Linked DNA regions of Homo sapiens: all the other regions are linked to region 1. Evidence: fine-mapped expression QTL. A gene starts in region 1. Each other region holds a variant in brackets. All regions are shown on one strand. Distances are between the middles of the regions.

Region 1 (2,821 bases):
GGTGGAGAAAGGGGAAATATTAGTCAAAGGGTACAAAGTTTCAGTTAGATAGGCGGAATAAGTTCTGGTGATCTATTGCACAGCAATGTGACTACAATTAGCAATAACCTTTTGTATCTTCCAAAGTTGCTAAAAGTGGATTTTAAATGTTCTCACCAAAAGAAGTAAGTATGTATATCATTTGATAGATGTTAATAGCCTGATTTGCTCATTCCACAATGGTTACATGTTTCAAAACATCACATTGTATGCCATAAGTATATACTATCAATTAAAAATAAAAATAATATTTAAAAATAAGGTAGCTGCCTTCCAGCAACTGTATCTGTAAGGGGTATAAATAATCCCAATGCATTTTAATAACTAGCACAATGATATTCTGTTTCAATGTGCTTTAGGACCACCAAGGGAGGGAACAAGTGAGCTTACACCTTCAGAAGCAGATGAACCGCTTTCAACAATGATAAAGAATTACCCAAGTGATGACAGTAAGAATATTCTAACCTTAGGGAACATCATGAACATCTCTTACACCAAGAGGAGATGAAACTGCAAAAAGATGTTTGAAAGGGGTCGCAGCAACGAATGCTTCTAATAGTGAATCTCTACGTTAGGGCATGTTAGAATCACCTTAGGAAAGTTCAAAAATTCCCCAAGCCCAGACCTCAAGCCAGACCAATTAAATCTGAATCTACAGGGGTGGAACCCATATATCTAAGTATTTTTTTAAAAAACAGCTCCTCAGATAATTGCAAAGTGCAGCCAAGGTTGAGAATCGCTGTTTTAAAGCAGGTACAAAAAATTAAACGTGGACTTTGATGGGGGGGACGGGAGTGTCGGTAGGCATGGATGAACTGAAAAGCCCTTCAGAATAGAGCGGTGACTGCAAGAGCAAGGACAAAAACTATATGAGAGCCCGTGGCAGGGGATTTAAGGGCCGTTTTTGTGTGGGACTGACAGGATTTGGGGGATGGTGACGACCTCAGCATACACCCGACTCTATTAAAATTGAGTTACTCTGCCAGCGGCCCTGTCTCTACCCGCAATCATATTTTCTAGCACCTTTTCCCACAGTTTGGAAAAAAAAAAAAAGGGGCGAAAACGTTCTCCCACGTAACGCGCCGTGGACGTGTATGGGAGGAGCAAAGGCCTGAGAATCACAAGCGCGCGGCCGCTCCCATTTCTTCGCGATTCCAGAACCAGAATTCACGAACATTTAGAGGAGGCCTCCCCTGGCTGTGTTTGTGCCCCACTTAGGAAGCGATGGTGGATTTCTCTGGGCAAATTGTCGCCTTTACAACGCCAGGGGGCGGAGGCGGGAGGGAGAGCGGCGAGGGTAAGGGCGGGGCAACTGCTGACGTTCCCGGTGACGACTCCGGCTCAGCCCTCACCCTGGTTTCCGGCGGCGCGCGGCTCCCTTTTCCGCTCTCCCGCGCGCTCACAGGTACCGCCTCACTCCCACGCGCCCCCCAGCGCTGCGGTGCTAGACAGCTGAGAGAACAGACACAGACCTGTCGGAAGGTCCTCTGCAGGTCCCCCTTCCGCTCTGCCGATCGACTTCCGCCTCGGGCAGTCAACATGTACGTTGCGGCTGTCTGGCGAAGCTGCTTCTGAGCGTTTGCGGAGGCGCAGCTTCCCCTCTGCGGGGCCGCCCTGCTTCCCCCCCATCCCCGCCTCCCCCCGCCCCTCGCTCCTGTCCCTGGGGTCGGCGGACTTCTCGCTACATGGGGGCGGGCTTCCGCGGTCGGCGCACGGCTTCCTGTTCTGAGGCGGCCCGGCGGTAGGCGGTGGCGACTCTGCCCGCTCCCGTTTCGGCGCGGTGACCGAGCGCCCGGGAGGCTCGAGGACCGCATCGTGTGCCGTTGCGCCAAGCCCGGTCCTGCGCCGCCATGGCCCCAGTGCAGCTGGAGAACCACCAGCTGGTCCCGCCCGGAGGCGGCGGCGGGGGCAGCGGCGGACCCCCGTCAGCCCCAGCCCCTCCTCCCCCGGGAGCCGCCGTGGCGGCGGCCGCTGCAGCTGCGGCTAGCCCGGGCTACCGGCTGAGCACCCTCATTGAATTTCTGCTGCACCGGGCCTACTCGGAGCTTATGGTGTTGACGGACCTGTAAGTGCCCCGAAACCCCTGCCTGTTCCCCAGCCCCCCTTCCCGCCCAACCGGCTGAGACGTTTGCACCTCCCTCTCCCCGAGAGGCTGCTGTGTTCTCCGCTGGACTGCTTAGTCTAGAATTTTTGAACTCCTGGGGTTCAGCAGAGGTGGAGAAGAAGCTTTGTATCTGGGGTCTTCCTGGCAACGATGCAACAGAGACTTGTTAATTTTGCGTGTTGTTACACTTCCACTGAAAATTGTGTGAAATTTTTGTCCGAGTTCCCAACAGAACTCTCTTGATTTCTTGGCTGGAATACATAATATTCGAGCTTTTAGAAAAAACTCTATAGATGGGAAATTTGTATTACAGCCTCTTGACGATACGTTTTAAATGTAAGCTGTTATTGCTTCTAAGTTAATGCAGGAGCTACATACGTTGTGTATAAAATACAAATTTGAATTCAAAGTACTTTTTTTCTGGAACTTTTGAGTGTTTGAGGTCTTAATGAAGTTAGTGTGAGTAAAATTTTTTTGTAAGTAGTCTGTTATTTCTTGGAGTATGAAGGGGGTTTATAAATCACCTAGTTACCCATGAAATGCCTTGGGGCATGATTAAGTTGTTAATCCCTTCAGAATAGGATCAGAATATACTAACGAATTTCAGTGTGTGAAGAAAAGGCACCGTAACATTTTGGGACTCTGTTGTACATCTTATAACCCAGGTTCAGAAAAAGT
Region 2 (2,850 bases), 300 kb before region 1:
CTTTAGGGCTTGGTTAGCCACACCCCTAAGGTGTGATGCCTCTGGGGTCTCTACTGAGTTCCCAATTTATTCAACAAAGTTTCTTTACTCAGCTTGGTAGAAACTTGGAAGATCGCTGGTCCTGTGTGAACTCTGGAAATTGTTTGAATACAACTTCCTGGTAGCTATTTCTGTAGAAATCGTTCTTTGCGGCCAGGCGCAATGGCTCACACCTGTAATCCCAGCACTGTGGGAGGCCAAGGTGGGCAGATCGCCTGTGGTCAGGAGTTTGAGACCAGCCTGGCCAACATGGTGAAACCCTGTCTCTACTAAAAATACAAAAAATTGGACGGGCGCGATGGCTCATGCCTATAATTCCAGCACTTTGGGAGGTCAAGGCAGGCGAATCACCTGAGGTCAGGAGTTCGAGACCAGCCTGACCAATGTGGAGAAAACCCATCTCTACTAAAAATACAAAATTAGCAGGGCATGGTGGTGCATGCCTATGGTCCCAGCTACTCAGGAGGCTGAGGCAGGAGAATCGCTTGAACCTGGGAAGCAGAGGTTGCAGTGAGCCGAGATTGTGCCAGTGCACTCCAGCCTGGGCAATAAGAGCGAAACTCTGTCTCAAAAAAAAAAAAACAAAAAACTAGCCAGGCATGGTGGTGGACACCTGTGATCTCAGCTACTCGGGAGGCTGAGGCAGGAGAATCACTTGAACCCGGGAGGCAGAGATTGCAGTGAGCAGAGATCGTGCCACTGTACCCCAGCCTGGGCGACAGAGCAAGACTCCATCTCAAAACAAAAAAAAAGGAAATCGTTCTTTGCCCAGCTACATAGAATTTATTCTGTATATGTGGGACTTAATGCAGATTCCTGAACTCCTAGAATTCTGCCTACTGTATTGGCCCACAAGTTTTATTTTGCAGCTTGGTGACCTTGGTGCAATTTCATAAGATAAAATTCTGTAAATGTTCTAAATTACCTAATCAATGACCTATCCAGTAATAAATTGATTTGTTTGTTTTGTAGTTTCATTTAGGTCTAACGTTTGAAGCATTTCTAGACCAGATTATACAGTATAATGAAAATATGAACACAAACAATCAGTATCACATTAGATCATTTTATTGGTGAAACTACCATGAATAATTCAGAATCTCCATTTCACCAAAGAGCACACTTTTACATGTGTTACTACTGTCCAGGTTGTTGGAATGGAACAGAGCTTGTATGTACACAGAGAGCCTACCTAGAGCTCACAGGTGTTCACGGGTGTGTCAAGAACATTTCTCAAAGCTTTTTAAACTTGCTAGCTTTTTAGCCTAAAGGATTCTGAAGCCTTTGTTGGCAAGGTAAAGATAAAGCCTTGTGGCAGAGATGGATTAATAATTGGCCATTTCTTAGCTGCAAGTATGAGGAAGTCAGATGGAATTACATATTATAAAAT[A/G]TATTATATACTAATAAAGGATTGTCTTAAAACATACAAGATAATTATACTTTTTGATGTACGTTATCTGCATGGATGACTCCTTTAGTCAATATGTTAGCAAAATTTAGCAATACTTTTTTTTTCTTTCTTTATTTTGTTTTTTTTAATTATACTTTAAGTTCTGGGGTACATGTGCAGAATGTGCAGGTTTGTTACATAGGTATACATGTGCCATGGTGGTTTGCTGCACCCATCAACCTGTCATCTACATTAAGTATTTCTCCTAATGCTATCCCTCCCTCTGTCCCCCACCCCTGACAGCCCCGGTGTGTGATGTTCCCCTCCCTGTGTCCATGTGTTCTCATTGTTCAACTCCCAGTTATGAGTGAGAACATGTGGTGGTTGGTTTTCTGTTCTAGTGTTACTTTGCTGAAAATGATGGTTTCTAGCTTCATCCATGTCCCTGCAAAGGATATGAACTCATCCTTTTTTATGGCTGCATAGTATTCCATGGTGTATATGCGCCACATTTTCTTTATCCAGTCGATAACTTTTGTTTTGTTTTGAGACAGAGTCTTGCTCTGTTGCCCAGGCTGGAGTGCAGTGGCACAATCTCGGCTCACTGCAACCTTCGCCTCCTGGGTTCAAGTGATTCTTCTGCCTCAGCTTCCCAAGTAGCTGGGACTACAGGCATGCACTACCATGCCCAGCTAATTTTTGTAATTTTAGTAGAGATGGGGTTTCACCACATTGGCCAGGCTGGTCTCAAACTCCTTACCTCAAGATCCGCCTGCCTTGGCCTCCCAAGGTGCTGGGAATACAGGCGTGGGCTACTGCACCTGGCCTTTTCTTTCTTTTTTTTTTTTTTTTTAAACAAACAGGGTCTCACTCTGTTGCCTAAGGCTGGAGTGCAGTGGCATGATCATAGCTCACTGTAGCCCAGAACTCCCGGGCGGAAGTGATCCTCCCACCAAAGCCTCTTGAGTAGTTCGGACTACAGGCACATACCCCCATGCCTAGCTTATTTATTTTATTTTTTGTAGAGATGGGGTCTTACTCTTTTGCCCAGGCTGTTCTGGAACTGCTGGCCTCAAATGATCCTCCTTTCTCAGCCTCCCAGAGTGCTGGGATTATAGGTGTGAGCCACCATGTCCGGCAAATTTTAGTAAGTTTAAAGATTTTTGCTCTGCCTATGTGATAGCACCATAACTTTGACACTTATTTTTAGGGAAAGGAATTATAGGTTACTGTTTTTAATCATGTAATAGATAGAGTAAGTACCTGGCAAGACACATAATTTTAAGGGTAAGGACAGTTGCTGATTTATTTGCATTTCTTAGTCCAAATTTTTCAAATGCATAAAGGTGCCACTGTGAAAAATGCAGAAAAGGTACCGAGGAACATTTTAACAGAACCGTTGCCAATGAAATTGTAGCTTT
Region 3 (2,500 bases), 60 kb after region 1:
GGTGTGGTATTGATTTCTTTTATATTAGTGTCTTTCCTCAAATGTTAAGCGATTCTTAACTCTCTGCTCTTATTTAAAGGTAAGACTTATTGACTGTGGTCTTCATTGCAGGATGATCTCCTTGGGCCATTTCTTTGGGAAACTCCCGATATCAGTAGCTTTAGGTCTTTTTGTTGGGCTGGTGTGAGTACCAAGACAGGAGTATCCAAATCTTCTGCATAGATGGTATGCATCTTGCTTTCAATATTGGGAAAGTCAAATGAAAAAACGAGTATTCTCAAATTTATGTAGACTTTGATCCCCATTTTTTATATAGTAGTCCTTCTCTGAGTTGGTCTTTGGCATCCCTCAAGTCAGAGATCCTCCTCCATGGTGGAAGAGATAACCGAGCTCAGTGAGAATAGCAGAGGATCTGGGAGGGTCTAAGTGTCTCTTAGACTTTCACTTAGTCCTTCTGTTATTAGTCCCACTTTTATCCCCACTTCCAAAGGTACCCATATTAGTCTGTTTTCACATTGCTGTAAAGATACTACCCAAGACTGGGTAATTTATAAAGGAAAGAGGTTTAATTGACTCACAGTTCCACGAGCTTAACAGAAAGAACGGCTAGGAGGCCTCAGGAAATTTACAATCGTGGTGGAAGGTAAAGGGGAAGCAAGCACGCCTTACATGGCTGCAGGGGAGAAGCGTGAGAGCAGGGGAAACTGCTACTTATAAAACCATCAGATCTGGTGAGAACTCACTATCACAACAGCATGGGGGGAACTGTCCCCATAATCCAATCAATCGGTCCCTCTCTCAACACGGGGATTACAATTCGATTACAATTCAAGATGAGATTCGGGTGGGGACACAGAGCCAAACCATATCAGTGCCTGATACTGCCAGTTCCAAAGTATCTCAGGGATCTGGATGGAAATAGCTTGCTTCTTGGCTTTTCCCACAGCTTACTTAGGATACAACTTTCTCACATTGGATGGTTCTAGTTGCTACTCAGCCATCTGCTTTGCAGCCTCCCGGATGTATTGCTGTTTCTTCTCTTCTCCTATTCTTTTTGTCTTTGTTACTTATTGCTTCAAAAAATTCTTTCCAGTAGTTTAGTGGGGAAAGAATGCAATGTGTGTTGTGAGCCCATCATCTTTAATTAAAAGTAGACTGTAGACTTCTTTTTTGAGACAGGGTCTCACTCTGTCGCCCAGGCTGGAGCGCAGTGGTGGGATCACGGCTCACTGCAGCCTCAACTTCCCGGGCTCAAGCAGTCCTCCCATCTTAGCCTCCCTAGTAGCTGGATCCACAGGTGTGCACCACCATGCCTGGCTGATTTTTCTATTTTTTGTAGAGATGAGGTTTTGCCATTATTGCCCAGGTTGGTCTCGCAAGGGATCCTCCCATCTTGGCCTCCCAAAGTGCTGCGATTATAGGCATGAGCCACCATGCTCAGCCCAC[T/C]ATGGACTATTAATAGCTCTCTAGTGATTCTGATAAGCTTATGATTCAAATATGTGTATATTCGAATACTGGGGATGTGAGGAGTGTTAAAGAGAATCTGTGCTTGAAACACAAACTCTGATAGCTTTGCTCAGTTTTGACAATATGTAAAACAAGGCTGTCCCACTCTTAATGGTTCAAGATTAAATTATATAATATAAAAAAGGAAAAAATTGGATCGTTTCTTACTCAGTTTTCCTTTCATATTTTCTAGTTTAAAAAGTGAGATGGCTCACTAGCTGGGAAATTTTCCAAGTCATTGAAGTTATGGCCAATATGCTTTTCATTTTTTACCCCCATTTCTGGATTAGAAGTTAATAAGAAAATATTATGATCTGATGGTAAGAGGTGCCAGGATGTACTTCTTTCTTCAACTTTTTGCTCACACAATATTTCTTAGTCAATATGACTTTTTTTAGATGCTGTTTTTGTTAACTGTTTTCCTCAGTTTCCCGCTTCAAAATTAACAATATTTCTTCTAGGTTGTCCTAGTAACGATCTTCAAGGATCAACATACTGTGTTTCTGTTTAAATATTCTAAATAATTTAAAATATTTTACTAATAATGTTAGGTAAAATAATCTAAATTTTACCTGTTTATATCCGTAGACGTTCCTGAATATGTTTGTTGACAGCAATCAGGATGCTCGAAGAAGGTCTGTAAATGAGGACGATAATCCCCCTTCTCCTATAGGAGGAGATATGATGGATTCTTTAATATCGCAGCTCCAGCCACCACCCCAGCAACAGGTAATATCTAGCCAGAATTCCAAGTGGTATCACATTTCTGTAACTTCACAGGTTCTATAGGTGTCAAGACTTCATTGAAAGACAAGGAGGTCCTTGGTGGGCCTGAGATGCCCAGGAAATACTTATGAAATAAAGAGTTACAGAAGGAGGCGAGGAGACTTCCAGTGACAAGAAATGAATAGTGTTGGAAACAGCATTAATCTCAGGTCATTCACACACTTAAAATGATGTTATATGATTCCAGAGATGGAAATACCATCCGCAG

What was found. PIP is the estimated chance that this variant, and not a neighbour inherited with it, causes the effect.
Region 2: its variant is fine-mapped to the expression of MED14OS in sigmoid colon (GTEx, PIP 0.99).
Region 3: its variant is fine-mapped to the expression of MED14OS in whole blood (TOPMed, PIP above 0.99).

The regions. Positions count from the first base shown.
Region 1 is chrX:40,734,481-40,737,301 of GRCh38, reverse strand. MED14OS (MED14 opposite strand) reads right to left here and starts at 1,612. Exons shown (of 2, transcript NR_169211.1): 1 at 1,512-1,612. MED14 (mediator complex subunit 14) reads left to right here and starts at 1,760. Exons shown (of 31, transcript NM_004229.4): 1 at 1,760-2,104. The coding sequence starts at 1,890. RefSeq lists enhancers at 548-1,468, 1,469-2,390 and silencers at 1,423-1,512, 1,773-2,152.
Region 2 is chrX:41,034,178-41,037,027 of GRCh38, reverse strand. No RefSeq gene overlaps it. Among named protein-coding and RNA genes, the nearest start is that of USP9X, 50 kb to the left of the region's middle. The variant A/G (reference allele first, on the strand shown) is at 1,430.
Region 3 is chrX:40,674,956-40,677,455 of GRCh38, reverse strand. It overlaps MED14 (mediator complex subunit 14), which reads left to right. Exons shown (of 31, transcript NM_004229.4): 22 at 2,095-2,235. Among named protein-coding and RNA genes, the nearest start is that of CXorf38, 29 kb to the right of the region's middle. RefSeq lists a silencer at 1,199-1,350. The variant T/C (reference allele first, on the strand shown) is at 1,447.